Linked DNA regions of Homo sapiens: region 2 is linked to region 1. Evidence: fine-mapped QTL for protein levels in blood plasma. Region 1 holds a variant in brackets. A gene starts in the other region. All regions are shown on their forward strands.

Region 1 (11,296 bases):
ATCAGTCAATGTCCTACTAAAAGTTTCCATTACACATGCTATAAATTTTGACTGATGAAAACTAAAAATCTAGATGCTTTTATTAGCTACGTATATTTACATCTATTTTCTGAAACGTATATTTAAAGAGAAGAAAAACCACAGCCCATAAAGGTTAAGTGATCTCCATTCTTCAAAGACCTAAGCAGTAATCTCAGGTTTCCTGGATCCATCCCTAAGCCCTCCACTAACAGCGATGTCCTATATAGAGAATCTGCTAAGATTTCTAGTTGGGCTCCCAATTATTTCCCTGGCCTAGATAAAATACTTCCTTGTTTTTAGCAACTAAAATGAAATTTTCCATAGTAACAATCTGGCAATAGTATAAACTTTTGGTAACGCTTAAATAGGTTAAAACCTATATGTTCAAACAGTAAATATTAAAAGACAACTCAATGGAAAGAAAATACTACATAAATTTAAATAATTTGAACTTACTAAATTAGTCAAAATAGCAAAATTGATAAGGGATAAAATTAAAAACCACCGTTGTCCATAAAAAAGCCAAAAGGAAAAAAAAAGGGACTTCAATACTTGGTCAACTCTTCCTATTTCTCCTTTTCAAGGTTTATATTTAAATGTAGAAAAGCAAAACTTTAACAAAAATCTACTATGTATTATTACTTCTCCTCAAAAAAAAACCCCAAAACCTTCCCATCCACCTTGAGAAATTCACTTAATGCATTTAGTATTCTCTTCCCCCCTCCCACCCCCCCCCCCCGTTCCTTCCCCTAATACCCAGGGTTGACCAACTCACAAAGCTAGCAGGATGCCTAAGTCAACATTATAAGGACAGGGGGACAAGAAAGAGTGCCTGGTCAAAACAACAAGATCTGTCACCACCCAGAAGGTCCCCAAAACTTGATTTCAGTTTCAAGTTCCCAAGTTAAACCTGAAACAACACAATGATGATTTGAATATTCCTTCCAAGCACACTCAGAGACTAGGGAGAGCTGCAGAAACAGAGCTGTAAGGATTCCCTGGGTATCTTGACTCCTAAGTTCTGCTAGTATATTCTTTGTGAGGTATGAAAAGTGCCCAAGGGCCAGGAACAGTGGCTCACACCTGTTATCCCAGCAGTTTAGGAGGCCTGAGGTGGGCGGATGGCTTGAGCTCACAAGTTTGAGATCAGATTGGGCAACGTGGCAAAACCCCATCTCTACAAAAAGAAAAATACAAAAAGTAGCCAGATATGGTAGAACCCACCCAAAGTCGCAGGTACTCAGGGGGCTGAGGTGGGAGGATGGCTTGAGCCCAGGAGGCGGAGGTTGCAGTGAGCTGAGATGGCTCCACTGCTTTTCAGCCTGGGCAATAGAGCCAGACCTTGTCTCCAAAAAAAAAGCCTAAGGAATTTGCTCAGCATGCCAAAGGAAGTGGTTAAAATGAAATCTGAAACAACCAACAAACGAATGCTTACCAAGCACCTTTTATGGTGCTCAATATCAAATGGGTACCAGGAAGAATGAAGTATTATAAAGTATAGTAACTCCAAATTCTTCCAGACAGCCCTGGTTTCCAACATTCAGTTCCACTCTAGATCATTTATATATGAGATAACGTGTGTCCTACCTTGGAGTCAAGAAAAAAAATGGTCACCACAGGTTTAAGACATGATCCCTATCCCCAAGAAGTTCATATTTCGGTTCTGAGCAAATGAAATCAGATAAATGAAATTGTTTTTCATTTCAGAATCTGAACAAATGAAATTGGACAAATGAAATTTTTTTAATAGTATTCAATAGGTGGTTCCCAAATGTACTGTATGGACTAATGCCAATCCATGACACATTTTTAACCCGTTCTTTAGCAAAATGAAAAAAATGGAAATGAGAAAAAGTAGTTCACATAGTCAAAAGTATATAATTTGGTGAGTGTTCTTTATTCTGGGAGCATGTTCTTCTTACATTTTGGTGTGTAAAACGGGTTTTTTTTTTTAAATACTGTGATAGCAGACAGCAATTTGTTACTCCTAAGATTCTTACTTTCAAAATAACCTAGCCACCATATATCAATCTCAGGTTTTTACCAGTCTATGTAAAATCTAACACTCCATGAGCTACTGACATTCAGGATTTTTACTCATTCATTCTCCTAGACCCCAAAAGGGGGTACAACAAACACTTTATCCTCAATTCCTGATGCCCCTTTTGAAACATCAAACCATAACAATCTTTGTTTGTCAGCACTTATGGCCCATGAAATTTACTCACAACACTCTAATCAAAATCACAACCTCACTGGTGTGATCTACCACTCACATCCACTTTCATGTTTCTTAGAGGACTTCAAAACTGGTTTGTCATCTTACCGTCCACCATCATATATATCATCATTTTCTATCTTCGTTCAGGTAGGAAGCCACAAAAACCAATCTGCAGCTAATTGAATCAGAAATCTATGAAAGGTACAGTGCAGACTGAAGAAGATGACTGAGAGGCTTCATAATGAGGAACAGCACCCAAAATCACGCTGCGGAACAGCTCTCAGAGAACAGCACTGCAGTGACAGAGACGGCACCACTGCAGCACCAGCGCCGGTGCAGGACTGGATGCTCATGCACATCTCAGGCCTCCAGATGCCCGCGACCTTCTCCCCTTCAGCCTCTTCCATAACCACACTACTCCTTTCCTCCATCGGCTTCTCCCCTGACTGCACAGAAGCCCATTTCCCCACCATGACGAAAAAAAACCTTTCCCAGATCTAAGGCAAAGGGAAAAACATACAAGACAGAATGTAAATTTGTGCTGCCAGGGGCTGGGAAAGGAGGGGATGGGGAGTGACTGATGAATGGGTATGGGCTCTCCTTCCGGAGTGATCAAAAAGTGTTCTGGAACTAGAGTGGTAAAGAAGGTACGACCTCGTAAATGTACTAAATGTCAGTAATGATAAATTGTATGTTACATGTTACCACCAAAACAACAAAAACATCTCTGGCCTCCCTCAGATTCCACGATATTACTCAGTACTTTTGTTCTCTCTCCTCTCCCCTCCCTCCCTAGCTTCCTTCTCTTCCAAGCCTGAAATGCAAACATTTTCCTCCTCCTCACTCTCATCCTTCTGTCTCCACATTCTCTCATTTGGAGATATCATCTATGATCAGTAGCAATTCCACTATCCACCCTAAGGAAGAGAGCTCTACAGCAAACCTTAGAAAACTTTTTCAGTGAAGGGCCAGAGAGTAAACATTTCAGGCTTTCAAAGCCACATGGTCTCTGTTGCAGCTATTTAACTCTATGTGGAAGCAGCCAGAAACAATAAGTAAACAGGTGTTCTATGCTCTAACAAACCTTTATTTACAAAAACAGGGCTTGCCGTGGTGGCTTACACCTGTAATCCCAGCACTTTGAGAGGCTGAGGTGGGCAGATCACTTGAGGTCAGGAGTTCTAGACCAGCCTGGCCAACATGGAGAAACCCCAATTCTACTAAAAATACAAAAATTAGCCAAGCATGGTGGCAGGCACCTGTAGTCCCAGCTACTCAGGAGGCTGAGGGATGAGACTCTCTTGATCCCGGTGGGGGGCGCCGAAGTTGCAGTGGGCAGTGATCGCGCCACTGCACTCCAGCCTGGACAACAGAGGGAGACTCCATCTCGAAAAACAAAAACAAAAACAGGAGGCAGCTGGACTTGGTCCAGGGGATACAGTTTGTCGATCCTGCTCTAAAGTATGATACACTGCACATCTACATTCCCATTCCTTCTTATATGCAGTGTATTTCCTCCAGGATTTCTGAGGAAGTATGAACTCCAGATGTCATTCAATAAATATCTATTGAGAGCCCACCATATTTCAGACACTGCACTAGGGATACAGCAGTAAAATACAGTCTTGTCCTCATGGATTTACACAAACTGAATGTCATTGGTATCAACCATAAAAATAAAGACAACAAACAAAACAAAAACCCTTACTTCTCCTGACTTTCCCAATCCAACAATCCAATCAGTAGCTAAGTCCTTTTATTCTCCTCTCAAACAGCTTTCTTATTCCTTCCTATCCATCATACCTGAGGCTTCACCAAGAACAAGCATTCCTTGTGTACAAAAAGCAGACTCTCTTAAATAAAATATGCAGATTTCTAGATATTTCAATGATAACATCAAAATTCATGAAAATCAAAACAAGATCCTACTGGGAGGCCGAGGCAGGCAGATCACCTGAGGCCGGGAGTTCGAGACCAGCCTGGTCAACGTGGTGAAACCCCATCTCTACTAAAAATACAAAAAATTAGCTGGGCATGGTAGCGGGTGCCTGTAATCCCAGCTACTCAGGAGGCTGAAGCAGGAGAATCACTTGAACCCAGGAGGCGGAGGTTGCAGTGAGCCAAAATCGCACCACTGCACTCCAGCCTGGGCAATAAGAGCGAAACTCCGTATCAAAAAAAATAAAAAAAATAAAATCCTAGCAAACTTACAAGATTTGAAAAGACATAAATTTTCTGACCTCGAGGGCAGGCCCTATTAGCATATGGTAGACACCAGAGAAACATTCTCAAAAATGATAGGAGTAATCTCTAAATGAAGGTATGAGAGTTTACATCAGGTACAATTTTAAAGCAAAAAAAGAGAAAGCATTGAAATTAATGCAAGAAGTTTACGGTCACTCAGTGAGTAAATTAAAAACAAGTGAGGACCTGTAATCCCAGCACTCTGGGAGGCCAAGGTGGGCGGATCACCTGAGGTCTGGAGTTCGAGACCAGCCTGACCAACATGGAGAAACCCCGTCTCTACTAAAAATAGAAAATTAGCCGGGCGTGGTGGCACATGCCTGTAATCCCAGGTACTCTGGAGGCTGAGGCAGGAGAATCGCTTGAACCTGGGAGGTGGAGGTTGCTGTGAACCAAGATTATGCCATTGCACTCCAGCCTGGGCAACAAGAGCAAAACTCCATCTCAAAAAAAACAAAAAAACAAAAAAACAAGTGATGATACGTGTACACAAAGGTGCCACAGCCAACAGAGTTAGAATCATCCCCTTAGGGGTGATGGGGAAGCAGGCATATTCTTCTTCAGGGCTGGAAAAATGTCCTTCTGAGCTAGACTTCTTCAGGCCAACTGAGACTAATCTATCAGATTAAACTTACTAAACATTCCAACAAAATCAAACCTACTATACTTCCCATGCCTATACATACAGGGAAATATAAAATGCCTCCCCCAGGGACAATGCCTAATTCATTCCATACTAAGCACCCAAATCCAGGTCTTATCATTTTGTTCTTCAAGCAAAAAGAAAACAAATGCAAAGCTGGAGCTCCCCATAGTCTGCATGGAGACATAAGAGGAAAACTGGGGCCAGGCACAGTGGCTGACACCTGCAATACCAGCACTTGGAGAGGTTGAGATGGTAGAATTGCTTGAGCCAAGGAGTTTGAAACCAGCCTGAGCAGCACGGCAAGACCCCATCTTAACAAAAAAAAAAAATACAAAAATTAGCCAGGCATAGTGGTGCACATCTGTGATCCCAGCTTCTCGGGAGGCTGAGGCCAAAGGATCGCTTGAGCCCAGGAGGTTGAGGCTCCAGTGATCTGTGTTTGCACTGCTGCACTCCAGCCTGAGCAAGACCCTTTCTGGAAAATAAAAAAAAATAAAAAAAATAAGAAAAAAAAAAAAAGAGGAAAACTGGTCTGTGTTGCCAATCTGGTAAGTTTCAGGAACAAGGCAAACAAATGGTGTTGGGAGCCAGTTCTCTATGGGTCTCTCCAGTTTCTGCATGTCTTATGAGCAGATTGCACTGACAGCTTTTATTGGCTACTATCTTTCCTGTACAGGACATCTGTAGATAGCATTTTAAGATAGCAATAGTGTTTCTCTCTGGAGCAGATGGAAGATTTGTTTGCTATGCAGAATAATAAAAATAATGTCTCCCTCAAAGCAAAGGCTGGGCAGGATTATTAGTTCCCTTATAAAAAATTGGGGTTTCCCAATCTCAGATTTTCTCAACTGTGGTGCATACCCACTGCATGGGCAACATCCACCTAGACCCACCCAGCCACCGTGTTACCCACATGGTCTTTGAGGGGCAAGAAAATACTATACAAACAGAGCTGTCACAAACATGAAGTTCATACTGCCTGCTGACCCAGGAGTGCTGTGTCTTCTGCCATCATCCGTGGAATTTTAAGAAGCTAACTTGTTAGCCTGCAAGTAAGGTAAAATCTCAGGCCTCCCACAATTCTTGACAAACAGGGTTTCTGCTGTCTTTCTCCTTGACTGGGTTTACTCCAACAAGCATATATGCCACACTTGCATTTTGTCCTGCAGGTCTCTTGCAACAAAGCTTCCATTTTGAAGGATTCCACTGTAAACTACAATAAACACGTTTATCAATATTGATCACCAAAAAATACTACTAGTGTCTGCATATACTTGCAAAATTCCAATTCATCATTTTTAAAGAACCGATGTAAAAATATAGTTCGAATAAAGCAATACTAAAAATCTAACTTTTGTGAAAAGTGATAGAAATACAGTACCATTCTAAGAAACATAGAAAAATCATGTTTTGATTTTAAAAGATTTCTAAAAGTGCCAATTAGAGGCTTTTTCACTCAGCATTAAGGAACATATTTTTGTTAAACATGATCAAGCAATTCATTTCACATTACAATCAAACCAAATGCTCAAGCATAATATATATATAATACAACCAAGCTTTGGTGGTTCATTTTCCCAAGTGTAATTAGTCAGTATAAAGAAATACTTTCTATAAATCCCTAGTAAATACCTTTATTTTTTCACTCTTAAGTTTAAAAGAACTTAGTATGAAGATCTGAGAAAGGATTCCCCTAGAATCACATGTGGTAAATTGTTTAAAAGGCACAGTATGAACAGTCTGAAACAAATGAAGTAAATACCCTTCAGCCAAGAACGTCACTGCATATAAAATCATCTAACCTCAAGTCTATGTAACTCAATTCTACATAAGTAAATGCCAAAATAATATCCTGGAAAGCTGAGTCATTTCAATGAGTAAATTTATATAAACAATTGGGTTACTACTTATGGTAAGTCACAAGAT[T/C]TTGGCAGGAAAATTGCTTACTAGCTTGCCAAAGACTAGGTTTGGCACATTGGTGCCCCACTGCCAAGAACATTACTGATAATCAGCTTTCTATCCTATAGGATTACCTTTCAGACATGTTTTACTCACTCATTTCCTATGTATTAAGCTTATACAGGAATGGTTAATGCAACTGAGCACCTTACTTCTGGAAGTGTGAGATTCCCAAAATTCCTCAAGAAAGGAAGAAAAGCATGAGAAATTGTAAATTGGAAGTTTGGAAGTACCTTTTTTTTTTTTTTTTTTTTTGAGACAAAGTCTCGCTCTGTCACCCAGGCTGGAGTACAGTGGTATGATCTCGGCTCACTGCAAGCTCTGCCTCCCGGGTTCAAGCGATTCTCCTGCCTCAGCCTCCCGAGTACTTGAGATTCCAGGCGCCCACCACCATGCCAGGCTAATTTTTGTATTTTTAGTAGAGATGGGGTTTCTCCACGTTGGCCAGGGTAGTCTTGAACTCCTGGCCTCAGGTGATCTACCCACCTTGGCCTCCCAAAGTGTTGGGATTACAGGCATGAGCCACCTCGCCCCGCCTGGAAGTATCTTTAACATTAGGAAATGCAAATAATCAACAAATAAATAAAGGAGAAAGAAAGGAGAAAACTGAAATATACTAAGAATAGCCTGGTTAACATCAATCATGAAACTAAAGGGAAAGTGTTAATTTTCATGCCTTCTAAGTAAGAGCTACAGAAAGTTCTGGGAGACAGGGAAGAAGACTGGCTAAAGGTACAGCACAGCAGCATGGCCACCTTTAGGACTTGCCCACTCTACAGCAGCCACCTCTGAGCACTTTTAAGTCATTTTTAAGACAAAGAGGCCAGGTGCAGTGGCTCACACCTGTATTATCAGCACTTGGGAGGCCAAGACCAGAGGATTGCTTGAGGCCAGGAGTTCAAGACTAGCCTGGTCAGCTGGTGAGATCCTGTCTCTACAAAAAAAAAAAAAAAATAGTAAAAAAATCAGTCAGGCTTGGTGGCAGCTACCAGGGAGGCTGAAGCAGGAGGATCACCTGAGCCCAGGAGTTCAAAGCTGCAGCGAGCTATGATTGCACCACTGCACTTCAAACTCCAGAGGAACAAAATAATTCACTGTCTTCCCCCAGAAAACTGATTTTCCTTCCCAGTGGTTGCATTTCTGGCCATACTATTACCATCCAACCTGTCACCAAAATGCATTTGCATCCTTGATCTCATTATCCTCATACTTTTACTATTCTCATTCATCCTACATACCCCTAACTGCATTCCCAAGCACTTCTCCATCCTTCTCTCATTCCTTCCCACTGTGAGAACTTATTCATAATAAATAAGAACTATCACTTCATAAACACTACATGCCAGGAACAGTGATAGGCCTTATTATAATATAATCATCATTTGTAATCCACACATCAATTTGTGATGTGGGCATAATTAACTCCATTTTTCTACCCAAGAAAAACCCAAGAATTTAAAACTCCTTCCTCTATCCTAATTTCCCTGATTTGAACTTTACAAACATGTACCAAAATATCACACATACCCCATAAATATGTACAATTATTATGTACCAGTTAAAAAAAAAATCGTTCCTCACCAAAAAGTCACTTCATTCATTTGATATGTCCTACAAAGATGGACAGCTCCAAGTTTTCACTCTATCCTTACAAATTCTGACAACATACAACTCATATGAATTTCTTCTTAGTTTACAAACTTAATTTCAAATTCAGTAAAATTAATAGTTCATTGGTTTCATTTAAAAAAAAAACTATCCTGGCCGGGCACGGTGGCTCACGCCTATAATCCCAGCACTTTGGGAGGCCAAGGTGGGCGGATGACTTGAGGCCAAGAGTTCAAGACCAGCCTGGCCAACATGGCAAAACCCCAACTCTACTAAAAATACAAAAATTAGTTGGGCGTGGTAGCGCACGCCTGTAATCCCAGCTACTCAGGAGGCTGAGGCACAAGAATCACTTGAACCCAGGACACGGATGTTGCAGTGAGTGAGATCATACCACCATTGCACTCCAGCCTAGGCAACAGAGTAAGATCTGTCTCAAAAAAAAAAAAAAAAAATCCAATTGGCTTTATGTCTAAAACTGAAATTACTGCACTGCTTAAATATAAAGATAATTGCATAATTTCTCTATTGTACACATAATAAGTCAGCATGTAATCCAAACATCACACTACTGTAGACTAGGAGCAGCCCTTAGATCCCTAAGAATAACCAGGTAACCCTTTCACTTGACAAGTTAAGAAAAACACTCAAAAAATGTAAGGCTATACAATTAATTGGTATCAAAACCCAACCTCTGATTCCCAGTCCAGAGCTCTTTCAATTAATCACATGTAACAGTCTTTGATTAAGCAGGACAGTACTCAAGACATCTCTCTCACTTCCAATAATGCCAGACCTTTTTTTTTTTTTTGAAATGGAGTCTTGCTCTGTCGCCCAGGCTGGAGTGCAGTGGCACGATCTCGGCTCACTGCAAGCTCTGCCTCCCGGGTTCACCCCACTCTCCTGCCTCAGCCTCCCAAGCAGCTGGGACTACAGGCACCTGCCCCCATGCCCAGCTAATTTTTTTGTATTTTTAGTAGAGACAGGGTTTCACTATGTTAGCCAGGATGGTATCGATCTCCTGACCTCGTGATCCAGAGATTTGGGAGGCCCGCCTCAGCCTCCCAAAGTGCTGGGACCACAGGTGTGAGCCACCACGCCCAGCCCAATAATGCCAAACCTTTTATCCCAGGACTGCAAATCCCAGCAAGGAAGATTTAGAATGGAAGTCACTGCCTACAATCCTCTTATATGAGAAGATAAGACCAGCTCCCAGATCTGCTTTGCACAGTCTTGAAAGACTCACTGGACATTAAATCTGTTGGCCTCCCAGTACTTTATAGCCTTGTGGTTGATTCCAAATATTACAGAACTTTCTGCTTCTAGATAATAGATTCCCCATGCAAAGCAAGGCTAAATAGTAATACCTCCCACATTCAACTTCCTTTCCTAAAAGTCAAGAAATCTTTTATTATTCTGTTAACACTATGGAGGGAAGGTCCATTCCAGTAATGAGGCAAAGGCCACTACTATGTGCAGATTTATTTCCTATTTGATAAGAATTATTCTTCCAACCTGGCAGAAAAGATAAGTGACTTACCCAAAGCCAGTGCAGTTCAGAAAGAGCTAAGCAGTAATTCAAACACCTGTAATCCCAGCTACTCAGGCAGCTAAGGCACGAGAATCATTTGAACCTGGAAGGTAGAGGTTGCAGTAAACCGAGGTCACGTCACTGCACTCCAGCCTGGACAACAGAATAAGACTGTCTCAAAAAAAAAAAAAAAAAAAGAAAAGAAAAAGAAAACCACCTCATAGAAGCTCTCTGTTGCTTCAACAAATATACTTTGAACAAAATGTAATGCACTTTGAACGGTACCTGGCACAAACTAAATGCTCAGTACTTGTTAATTATTTTAATCTACCATAATTATAACTATCACCATCATCATACCACTAGACTATCAATGTCATAAGGAAGATGGTAATTCAGTCTGTTGCATTTGCTGTTCAAAGTGCATTACTTGTAGAATTGGTAGAGAAAAGGGAAACAGATCAGAAAAATTTTTCAAATCTACAACCTGGTCATGTGATAGTGAAAGAAAACAGCATTTTTCAGTAAAGAAAGCCAATGGTGCTGGGGAGCAATCACCTGCTAAAGAGGTTGGCATGGATAAAAGGGAGCCAGGTGCTAATAGTCAGAACAATGGGAAAAGACCCTGAAGGCATCTCAGACATCTTTGAGGCTGTCTCTCCCATCAGAGGCCCAGAGACCTAGGAGGACAGCATGGTTTGGGGAGACAGGCCCGGGGCACAGCTGGCCTGGCACACCTCAAGGAGTCCTGGAACGTCCTACATGCTGCTCCGACATCCTGGCTGCTGCAGTCACAGAATGTCTACCCAATGACCGTACAACCATTGTATCTTGGAAAAAAATTATTCGTTTTTGGTTTTACAGGCTCATAGCTAGAAGGAACTTGCTTTGAGTCTCAGACTTTGAACCGTTAAGTTGGTGCTGGAACAAGTTAAGAATTTTAGGGACTATTGGAATTGTATTTTGCATGAGAAAGATGATTGTATTTTGCATGTGAGAAGGATGAGATCTGGGGGGTCAGGGATGGAATGCCATGGTTTGGATCTTTGACCCCTCCAAATCTCAC
Region 2 (11,296 bases), not on the chromosome of region 1:
GCTGTGTTGCCCGGGCTGGTCTTGAACTCCTGGGCTCAACTGATCTGCCCGCCTTGGCCTCCCAAAGTGCTGGGATTACGGGTGTGAGCCACCGTGCCTGGCCGTGAGTATCTGAATTTAAGATGTGGGGTTTTTTTTGTCATGATATTCTTTTAAAGATCAAGAAGAAAAAAAAGAAAAAGATGTGGGGTTTAAAATAATTAGAGCTGCGGTGTTGAGGTGTGAGGTGAGGGGGCCTGGGACACCCGGAAGGTGTGGGACCAGGTGGTTCATACATGGCAGAGGGCTGGGTGGCCTGGCCTCTGCTCAGGGCTTTCTGGGGTGGTTCAGGTGGGTGAGGGGAGGAAGGGCCGTTCTGTCTGGTCCTTGGGCTTTGTGAGCAGAGTTCCTCCCGGGAAGAGTGTCCTGGAGCTGAGGTGTGTGCGGGATGGGGAAAGGCCAGGAGGGGCCGGTGGGCAGAGCCTGCCGGGCCGCTTCTGCAGGGACCCACAGGGAGTGGGTGAGTGGGTGGAGGGGATGGAGGGGGTCGGGGGGCGGTGCGAGGCACCTCCCGCGGGCGGGAGCAGCGGTTGCAACTGGAAGTTAGCCCTGGAGTTGGACCTAAGGGAAGCATCTGGGTGGGAGGGGCTGGACCAGGAGCCCCCAGGGAGGTCACCCGCAGGATTTGGCGCGGCGGGCGCTGTCCACGGTGCTGAACCGGTCGCGCGCGGGGCGCTGTCAGCGCTATGGGCGGGGGCAGGGGCGGGCGGACTCACTTGCGGAAGCAGTGCGCAGCCGTCAGGACCCACTGCTCCGCGATGAGGCTGCCCCCGCAGAAGTGGCTTCCGTTGCGCTGGATGCTGACTTGCCAGGGCCACTCGCCCTCCTGCGTGTCCTGCCCGCCCACCATTCGGTTCAGCATCCTGGGGCGACCACAGGCTGGGGGAGCATGGGGAGCGGGTGGGGGCGCTCACTGGGGCTGGTTCCATGGCCGAGGCCCAGCTCTCAGCCTCACACTCCAGTCCTCGGCCCTCCTGCCCCTGACCTGCCCGAAGACCTTGGGGAAGTCGGAGGCCTGGGCTTCGGGGCAGTCTGGGATACAGGCAGACCCTCCCCAGCTGCCCCCCAAAGTCTCACTCTCCTCGCCGAGAAAGGCAACCTAACACCTGCCTCTTGGGGGCCACGGAGGCACTGAGATAACCCAGGGAAGGGTCTTGTCCCAGGGCCTGACCCAAACAGGTGCCTGGAAGGATAGAACAGGTGTCAAGCCCTCTGCAAGGGAGCCACCCAGAGGGGGCCAGTCACGGTTCAGGGTGATCCTCAGACCCTGCCGCCCTCATCCTGCACCGCGCCTCAAGGCTCTGTGCTGCCCGTCCTGCTCTTGTGTGGACCTTCCTCCTCCTCTCCTTTCTGGGCTCCAGTTCCACACAGCCCCCACTTTCCCCTCCTCTGGAATTCCCCAGTGTCCTGTGCGTTCCAAATTCCCTCTGGCCATGAGTGTCCCTGGCTCAGTCCAGCCGGCTCCTGTCCCTCCCACCCCAGGGCCCTGGGTGCTTACCTGTTGCTGCCTTGGCCCTCTGAGACCCTGGAAGTGAGGAGAGGGTGATCAGCCAGGCCAGCTGCAGCCTGGCCTGCCCTCCCCAACCCTGCAGCCCCTCTCCACTGACCCTCCCCAGCTCCTGAGGACTCCAGAGGGACAGTCCACAGAGGGACCTCACCGGAGAGCCCAAGGGCCTGCAGTTTCCCCCCCAGGGCTGGCTCTGCCGTATGCTCAGGCCCAGGCCCATGGGCCACAGCTTATCTGCAAGGGTGGATGCTCCTTGCCACATGGGGAGCCGGTCAGGAGATGCCAGTGAAGGGATCCCCAGGCTAGATGTCCCCTTCTCATCCTGGAAAGGGTCCTCTCCCTCCACACTCCACACCCATCCTTGTCTGGAAGTTTCTGGGGAGGGTCCAGCCTCCAGCCCTGGCACTGTAAGGTTGGCCTTTCCTCCCGGAACAGCTCAGAGCGGAAGAGGCCCGGGAGCTGTCTCTACATTTGAGCTGCCCAGGGCTCTCTCACAGTCTGCTCCGGAATGAGCTCCTTCCCCAAGTCTCACTTTGGTCCCGAGGCTGAGGCCCGAGCCCCACAGGCTTCTCCCTGGCCTCAGGGGAGTAGAGAAGGTACAGTGGTCTGCATTGGCCACCAGGGATCAGCCTTCTCAAGATTCCAGAGTCCCAAGAGCTGACCCCTCTCCCAGGCATGCAGCAGGCTTGGCAGACGAGGCCCAGGACCCCCTGCTGGGCTGTGCAAGGGGGCTTTGGAGCGGATAAAGTGAGGGGCCCGGAAGAGAAGCAAGATATGGGGTCGTTCGGGGGAACCAAGGATGGGAACATATTTTCTGCTGTCCATTGCCTCCCACACCCCAGGACACAAAGGGCCTCTTGCTGGGCCTTTAACCAAACACTGGAGCCTCTACCCCAGCTTGGAGACCCCAGCCAGGACCATAGTGTACAGCCCCAGGGTAGCAAAGCCTGGAACTTCCTGGCCTTGAGAGAGTCCTCTCACCACCCCTGCACTCCACGCGTCTGATTCTGTGGGGGCAAGATTCGCCCGTAGCTGGGGAGGGGTTAGAACAGCCACCTCCCCACACCTAGGCCCTCAGCTTCCCCTTAACCCCCAGTGCCTTCCGGTGCCCGGGCCAGCTGCTATGGACCATGTCTTCACTCTGCCCGGAAAAGATAACCAGTCCCCTGGAGTTGAGGGGCTGTGGGGACAGGAAGTGGCCATGGAGGGCCCAAGCACCCCCAGGGTTTTTACGGCATCCTCTTCCTTTCTGTCTGCCTCACAGTCTGGGGGGCACCCTCCCCAACACCACTGGTGGGCAGAGACACCCCGGGGGTTGCTGGACGATAAGGCAGCGGGCGGCGAGGGGGCAGCTGTGGATGGGCAGGAGGAGGAGGTGGAGAAGGTGCAGGGCAGGCAAAGGGGTGCCCTGCAGAAGCGGGGTCAGGGGCAACGGGAAATGGAGAGTCTGCCCTGGATGCTCTGCTCATTAATTTGTGCTAATTAAGTGCCCTTTAAAATGCAAACACTACCGGGAGGGTTATTCCCTGGCCCCCCGACCCCTTGCTCCTTCCAAGCCTGAGGATCCTGCTTGCAGAAGGGCGCGCACTGTCAGGCCTTCTCGCTCTCTGGGAGTCTGCAGGAGCTGTGTCTCCATGCTCCCTGCCTGAGCACTGCCCCTTCAGCGATGCCTCCTCCCCATGCAGATCCTTCCTTCCTAAAGTAGCCCTGTACTTCTCATTTAGGCAGAGTCTTCTGGTCTCTGAGTGCTTGCTCCCCTCACCCCACAATCTGGATGCCCTTCCCCCAGTCTCCATAAGTCCTAGTCTTTTTTTTTTTTTTTTTTTTAAGATGGAGTCTCACTCTGTTGCCCAGCCTGGAGTGCAGTGGCGCGATCTCAGCTCACTGCAAGCTCCGCCTCCTGGGTTCACGCCATTCTCCTGCCTCAGCCTCCCGAGTAGCTGGGACTACAGGGGCCCGCCACCAAGCCCGGCTAATTTTTTTGTATTTTTAGTAGAGAGGGGTTTCACCATGTTTGCCAGGATAGTCTCGATCTCCTGGCCCCGTGATCCGCCCACCTCGGCCTCCCAAAGTGCTGGCATTACAGGCGTGAGCCACCGCTCCCAGCCAAGTCCTAATCGTGATCTAGAGATCAAGGCCCAACTGAATGCTGCCTCCTCCAGGAAGCCTTCCTTGCTTGCTTGCATTGTCTACCTTGGAAGCCCTATACTCTCTCTTGAGCTCTCTGTCCTGATGGGAGCTCTGTCTACATCACCCTGGAGCCAGAATCAAGTCTTATCTTAGCCCAGGAGCTCCGAGAAGGCAAGGGCTGCATCTGGGGGGCCTGATCTCAGGGAATGTGTGGATGGACACAAGTGTGGCTGTGGGGGCTGATGGGAAATGGGGGATGTGGACAGCTGAGCCCTTCAGGGTGGGCGCCCTGTGGGGGCTGGAAGCAACAGCCAGGGGTGCCGGGGGTGTCAGGAGCATTGTTTGGGGCCTGGGCCTGTGATTCGCTGGTAGCTGGTGGGGATGGTGAAGCTTAGTGGGTACCACCAGCCAGAGACCTGGTGGGAGTGCCACCCTCGGGCTGGGAGTGAGGACGTGTCCAGGAGTCCAGCCTCTGGTCACAGCTGTTAGTGAACCGACTGCAAAACTCATTGCCAAAGAGTTTTGGCAATGACCTTGGTTCCTCACCCCGCTCAGGGGCAGTCACAGCCTTCCACCTCCTGTGCACATGGCTTGCTCAGAGGGCACCATCCTTGTGCTGGGAGACTGGGGGCATGGGGTGGGGGAGGCCGGGCCACTGAGGGGCCACTGGTGCCCTCCCACCCAGGAGAACAAGGAAGCCTGGAGTACTGGCTAAGCTGCAGCCTGGGATGACCTGACCCAGCCCTGGGAGGTGACTTGAGGACAGGGAAGTGTGGTGGCTGCCAGACTGGCTAGGCTAGCCCAGGAATGTGAGAGGTTTTCCCTGACAGAGAGTGTCCCGGCCCGCAGGGAGGGGCCTGGCAGGTGGGGCCCCCTGGCTGGCACCTGCTGTCCCTGACCCAGGACTGGGAGAGGGCACGGTGGCGCATCACCGGTTCCTCTGTCAGCAGGAGACAGGGCCCTCTGCCACCTACACCCCCTGCCCCCAGCTCTCTACTGAGCCTGCAGCCAGCCTGCTGGGGCTTCCGGGCACAGGCAGCAGCCCTCGGCTCGGCCACCCTCCCACCCCGAGTATGATGGTCCAGGCACTTGGAGCCTGAGTTCACATCCTGCACGTAGGAGGCCCCTGTCCTCACCTAGAGAATGGGGGGAGAGGCCGAGGTGGCAGGAAGCAGGGAGCCTGGCCAGAGCTGGCACACCAGTGCCCGCGGAGAGGCATGGGAGGAGGTGCTGCCCAGTTATGCCGGTGGGGTCCTCTGGGGCCTGTGCGCACACCTCCCACCCTGCCTCCCCACTTTGGACTCCCCACTTGGCACATCTGGAGCCTTCCCACCTGCTCAGGGGCAGGAGGGATGATGGCCTGTCCCACAGCCCCAGCCTGTCCCAGGGAGTAGGGGGCTGAGCCGGAGCCCCAGGCAGTGCAGCGGAGCCTGGTGGGGGACTGCACCACCAGGACCCTGCACCTTCACGACTCACCAAAACACAGCAGCAGCAGGAGCGGCACCGCCGCCGGCCGCCTCATGTCCTCAGGCCTGGCTGGGGCGCAGGGCCGTGGTCGGCGGTGGCAGAAGCGTTGGAGCACGAGCGAGGTGCAGGCTCCATGAAGTGGAGTTTTATGCTGGAGATGAGCACAGGCCCGGCTATGCGGCCCAACCCGTCGGCCCGGCCTGCCCAGCTCCTCTCCTCAGGAAGGAAGCGCCCAGAGCCGACTCCTCCGTGACCTAGCCCTGAACCCCGAGACCCCAGGGCAGACCCCTCACCCCAGCGCAGCACGGGGTGCCGTTGGCCTCGGTTCCTGGACCCTGAGCTGACCCAGACCCCCCAGCAGACCCCGAGCTGACCGCGGTGCACGCGAAGTCCGTCCAGCTTCATTCATTATTATTATTATTATTTTTTTTAATTTTTTGAGACAGAGTCTCGCTCTGTCGCCCAGGCTGGAGCGCAATCTCGGCTCACTGCAAGCTCCGTCTCCCAGGTTCAAGCCATTCTCCTGCCTCAGCCTCCTGAGTAGCTGGGATTACAGGCAGGTGCCACCACGCCCGGCTAATTTTTTGTATTTTTAGTAGAGACGGGGTTTAACCGTGTTGGCCAGGCTAGTCTCGATCTCCTGACCTCGTGATCCGCCCTCCTCGGCCTCCCAAAGCGCTGGGATTACAGGGGTGAGCCACCGCGCCCGGCCTCATTCAGTATTTTATTGAGCGCCGATGGAACACAGTGGGGCTGGGCCGCGCTGGTGGGAAAGTCAAGGCCAGGGGTGTTTGCGGGGCCGAGGGCAGGGGAGGCGATGGGACATGGGGCGGGGTCCGGAGTTGGCCGCAGCGACCCTCCTCCCGGGACAGCAGGCCCCAGAAGTTCCTCAGGCGCGCGCCAGCGCGGCCCAGGCGGCCGACCCGGGCCCCGGCTGCCATCCCTTGGAAGGGGCGGGGGCTTCCTGGCACCAGGCGGGGCGGAAGCGGCTCCGGGAAGGCCGGGCCGGGGTTACCGTTTCGGTGTCCCCGCCTGGCTCTGGGCGCGGCGCCGCGGCGGAAGAGGCTCGGGGAGGAAGTTATTTGGGGCACGGCGCTGACGTCAGAGACAGAGTGGGGCCGGGCCGTGGGGTCGGGGGCGCCGGACCTGTTTCCCCGCCGGCGCCGGGGGTCGGTACTCGCGGGCGGGGCGGGGCCGGGCGGCTCCGGGCGGGGCTGGGGGTGCGGCCGTTCCCGCCTCAGCCTTGTCCGCGCGCGTCGTGGTGCTGCCCTCTGGTGGGCGCGGGGCGCGGCGCGGGCGGCCAGGGGTGCAGAAGGGGCGCTCCCAGCCTCATGGTCCGGGCTCCGGCTCCCCGCATCGCCCTCCCTAGCCCCGCCCTCCCGCGTCTCCGCCTCCGCCTCCACCGCCTCCTCCCACCCTTCCCTCCCCGTCCAGTCCCTGGAGTTCCCGGGTCGGGGGTGGGAGGCGGGCTGGGCAGCCCCTGGGGGTCTGGAGGGAAGGAGGGAGGGCGAGGAGTGGGAAGAGGGGACTCCAAACGTATTCATTCATGTATTGATTTATTCATTCAGTCAGTCAGTCATTTCTGAGCAGATTTGAGCCCAATACTGTCCCCGGTTTGGGGAATACAAAGGTGACCCAAACAGACCTCACCTCAGTGTGAGAGAGAGAACATCATTTAGCAGAGAAATCTCTAATTATAAACCGCGACGGGCTGGGTGCAGTGGCTCACACCGGGAATCCCAGCACTTTGGGAGGCCAAGGCAGGCAGATCACCTGAGGTCAGGAGTTCGAGACCAGCATGGCCAACATGGTGAAACCCCGTCTCTACTAAAATACAAAATTAGCCGGGCTTGGTGGCGGGCACCTGTGATCCTAGCTACTCAGGAGGCTGAGGCAGGAGAATCACTTGAACTCGGGAGGCGGAGATGGCAATGACACGAGATTGCAACACTGCACTCCAGCCTGGGAGACAGTGAGACCCTGTCTCAAAAAAAAAAAAAAAAAAAGGAGAATAATAATTATCAACCACGGAAAGTGTTTCAAAGTGTCTGGGTGACCACATTTCTCCAGCACCCTATGGTCAGGTCACTGATGGGATCTCAGAGGCAGTCTTAGAGCCTCGCAGGTAACTATTTCCTCTTGGCACCTTTCTGTGTGTTCCTTGGTGTCTGCTCCCCAACCCTCCTTTTAAGCCCATTCCTCTAAGGGTGTCTCTGCCTTAAAATCAAGAAAGTGACAAAAGTCAAGATGCAGATCAGGGCCAGGTGCAGTGGCTCACGCCTGTAATCCCAGCACTTTGGGAGGCCGAGGCAGGCGGATCACGAGGTCAGGAGATCAAGACCGTCCTGGCTAACACGGTAAAATCCTGTCTCTACTAAAAATACAAAAAATTAGCTGGGCGCGGTGGTGGGCGCCTGTAGACCCAGCTACTCTGGAGGCTGAGGCAGGAGAATGGCCTGAACCCGGGAGGCGGAGCTTGCGGTGAGCCAAGATCTCGCCACTGCACTCCAGCCTGGGTGACAGAGCGAGACTCTGTCTCAAAAAAAAAAAAAAAAAAAAAAAAGATGCAGATCAGAAAGCGAGGACGCCAGGGAAACTTGGGCTCCTGAAGAACAAGGCACAGCCACGCCAGCGATTAGAGGATCGGGAACCCAGACCTCGCCTCCATGTCCCTGTACCTGGAGCCCACGGACCCAGGGCTGAGAATGGGCCCCTTCCTCATACCACCCACCAAACAAATGAAGAGGGCATTACAATCCAGAAAGATTTTTATGTTTTGTTTTGTTTTGTTTTGTTTTGTTTTGTTTTTTGAGACACAGTCTCGCTCTGTTTCCCAGGCTGGAGTGCAGTGGCACGATCTCGGCTCGCTGCAACCTCTGCCTTCCAGGTTCAAGCGATTCTCCTGCCTCAGCCCCGCTAGTAGCTGGGATTACAGGCCTGTGCCACCATGCCCAGCTAATTTTTGTATTTTTAGTAGAGATGGAGTTTCGCCATGTTGGCCAGGCTAGTCTCGAACTCCTGACCTCAGGTGATCCACCCGCCTCGGCCTCCCAAAGTGCTGGGATTACAGGCATGAGCCACCATGCCCGGCCATGTTTTTAAAATAATCAGTCCCTCCCTTCAAAAATAGAATTGGGGCGGGGTGCCATGGCTCATGCCTGTGAGTCAGAGGTTGTAGTGAGCCGAGATCGCGCCACTGCACTTCAGCCTGGTGGCAGAGCGAGACTCTGTCTCAAAAAAAAAAATTGAATTGGACATTTATCAACTCTCTGGAAGGGGGACAGTTTTCTAAGGTTAGAAGTCATGGCTGGGCATGGTGAAAGGAAGAGGGAAGGGTGCTGGTCAGTAAGCAGCAATAGCCACACACTCTCAGTCAGGTGTGAAAGTGAAATACAGACATTTTTGGCCAGGTGTGGTGGCTCACACCTCTAATCCCAGCACTTTGGGAGGCCGAGGCAGGCAATCACTCGAGTCCAGGAGTTCAAGACCAGCCTGGCCATTGTGGTGAAACCCCGTCTCTACTAAAAATACAAAAATTAGCCAGGCATGGTGGCACACATCTGTAATCCCAGCTACTGGGGAGGCTGACGCAGGAGAATCACTTGAACCTGGGAGGCAGAGATTGCAGTGAGTTGAGGTTGCATCATTGCACTACAGCTTGGGCGACACAGCAAGACTCTTTTTTTTTCTTTGAGACAGAGTTTCACTCTATCGCCTCCCAGGCTGGACTGCAGTGGTGTGATCTCCGCTCACTGCAACCTTCGCCTCCTGTGTTCAAGCGATTCTCCTGTCTCAGCCTTCTGAGTAGCTGGGATTACAGGCAGGCACAGCCATGCCCAGGTAACTTCTTTTTCTTTTTCTTTCTTTTTTTATTTTTTATTTTTTGTATTTCAGTAGAGATGGGGTTTCGCCATGTTGGCCAGGCTGGTCTCAAACTCCTGACCTCCTGATCTCTCCACCTCGGCCTCCCAAAGTGCTGGGATTATAGGCGTGAGCCACCGTGGCAGCCCTGACTCTAAAAAATAAAAAATAATAAATAAATAAATAAATAAAACCAGACATTTTCATGCTTGAAAGTTCTCAGAACATTTGGCCAGGCATGGTGGCTCATGACTGTAATTGAAACACTTTGGGAGACTGAGACAGAAGGAATCCTTGAGTTCAGGAGTTGGAGACCAGCCTGGGCAACACAGTGAGACCCCATCTCTACAAAAGAGAAAAAAATGTACTCCCTATGCGTGATTGTTGGAAAACCACCAGAGGAAAGATGCTCTTCAGCTAAAAGAGTAAAAAATCAAGAAAGCACAAGCTGTGGTCTGTGAAATGCAGACGTGGAACATGGCGGAGTACTGAAGGAAAGCTTGAGGCTGATGGTGAGGGACATTCTGGAAGGATAACTGTGCGCCAAGTCTAGAGGGCAGTCAGTGCTCATTGTGACACTGTGACTCAAGAGATAGGAAAGCTGGGACTGTCGTGATTGTGCTGTCATTGCACTAGCTCTTTAACCTGGCCAGATTACTGGAAGATGTGTTTCACCTAAACAAGGTGTAAACTGAGGAGGAGGAAGACAAGAGATCCAGGATGTGGGGAATCCAAATCAGGAGAAACCCAAGAGGGATTACAAGGATGACAGCTGGGGGATGTCCCAGTGATGGCAGCAGTGGCCCGTCTGGAGTGGTCGCTGTGAAGACACCAGCTGCAGTGGGGGAAGCATGGCCGGGTCTGTGCCCTTCATGGACCTGGAGGGGCTGGGAACAGACGGGAGCCCTGCCCCTTCTGAGTTGGCAGGGTGGGGAGCCCTGCCTTCCCAGGCACATCAGCAGCCACCCAGCTGTAGCTGCAGACCGGGGCATCCCTGTGCTCTCGGGGGGCCTGGAAGGCCCCCGGCCCCCACAGGCTCAAAGCGCCTGCTCCTGCTGCCTGGCTTCTCCCTGTTTCCAGCGCCCACTCCAATTTCAGAGCAAAGTTGAGGTCGAGACCAGGTGCTGTTGGAACCTGGCTGGGTGTGCCCGTGTTGGGGCAGTGCTGACGTGCCAGTCCCCTGCCACACTGGCCATCTCCGGACTTTGGGCGCTGATGAGCATGGGAGGGAGGCTGAGGGGGTGCTGAGGGCAGTCTCGAACTCCTGACCTCAGGTGATCTGCCTGCCTCGGCCTCCTAGCCCTGTCTGTGTTCCTTTATTTATGTTCTAGGAAAGAACGTATTTCCTGATCATTCGGGTTGTTGGCAGAATTCAGCTCCTTGTGTTTTAGGGCTGAGGTCCTGGCTTTCTCATTGGCTGTCAGCTGAGGGCTGTTCCCAGCTTGTATGTGCCACTGTATTCCTTGGCTGTGGCCCCTTCCTCCATCTGCAGAGCCAGCAATGGTGGGCTGGATTCTCACTTTGCATCTCTCTGACTCTTCATCTATCATCACATTTCTCCTTAATCACAGCTGGGAAAGGTTTTCTGCTAAAAGCCAACTCCTATGATTCGATCAGGCCCACTGGGATGGGCTGGGATAATTTCTCCACCTCAACGTTATTAACTTAATCACACCTGTAAAATCTCTTTTTGCCATGTAAGGTCATGTACTCACTGATCTGGGGATTAGGACATAGACATCTAGTGGGGCTGTTACTCCACCTGCCACGCTGGGCTTCTTCCATGCCAACTCCAATGACAATTTTATTATGATATTATTGGAGTATTGGCATACATATTTAGAATACTCAAGATATTCTCTGTGCCAATATTCTGTCACTTCTTAGTGTATTCTTTTTTCTTTTCTTTTTTTTTGAGATGGAGTCTCACTCTGTCTCCCAGGCTGGAGTGCAGTGGTTCGATCTCGGCTCACTGCAACCTCTGCCTCTGGGGTTCAAACGATTCTCCAGCCTCGGCCTCCCAAGTACCTGGGATTACAGGCATCTGCCGCCAAGCCAGACTGATTTTTTAATATTTTTAGTAGAGATGGGGTTTCTCCATGTTGGTCAGGCTGGTCTAGAACTCCCGACCTCAGGTGATCCGCCCACCTCGGCCTCCCAAAGTGTTGGGATTACAGGTGTGAGCCACTGCTCCTGGCCTGTTTCCACCTTTTGGCTATTGTGAATAATGATGCTTGAACTTGGGTGTACAAGTATCTCTTTGAGACACTGCTTTCAGTTCTTTTGTGAATA

Which allele goes with the higher level. Alleles are on the strand shown, and positions count from the first base shown. The strength of an association depends on the size of the effect and on how common the allele is.
For the plasma level of the protein whose gene starts at base 5,262 in region 2, T is the low allele of the variant in region 1 and C is the other (weak association).

The links. PIP is the posterior inclusion probability: the model's chance that the variant is causal. The UK Biobank Pharma Proteomics Project read protein levels with antibody pairs (Olink). The fine-mapping took linkage between variants from a reference panel, not from the people measured, so its PIPs are less certain.
Region 2: it holds the start of PRSS27, and the variant in region 1 is fine-mapped to the plasma level of the PRSS27 protein (UK Biobank, PIP above 0.99).

What each region holds. Positions count from the first base shown.
Region 1 is chr6:2,230,194-2,241,489 of GRCh38, forward strand. The region is part of intron 1 of GMDS (GDP-mannose 4,6-dehydratase); the gene reads right to left. It overlaps LOC107986512 (a long non-coding RNA gene), which reads left to right and starts at 1,175. Exons shown (of 2, transcript XR_007059405.1): 1 at 1,175-1,257; 2 at 2,390-4,118. The variant T/C (reference allele first, on the strand shown) is at 7,059.
Region 2 is chr16:2,714,963-2,726,258 of GRCh38, forward strand. It overlaps PRSS27 (serine protease 27), which reads right to left and starts at 5,262. Exons shown (of 6, transcript NM_031948.5): 1 at 5,153-5,262; 2 at 1,538-1,564; 3 at 756-918. The coding sequence starts at 5,198. RefSeq lists silencers at 599-688, 799-848, 5,833-6,592, 6,723-6,792, 7,476-7,645 and 1 more and an enhancer at 5,532-6,099.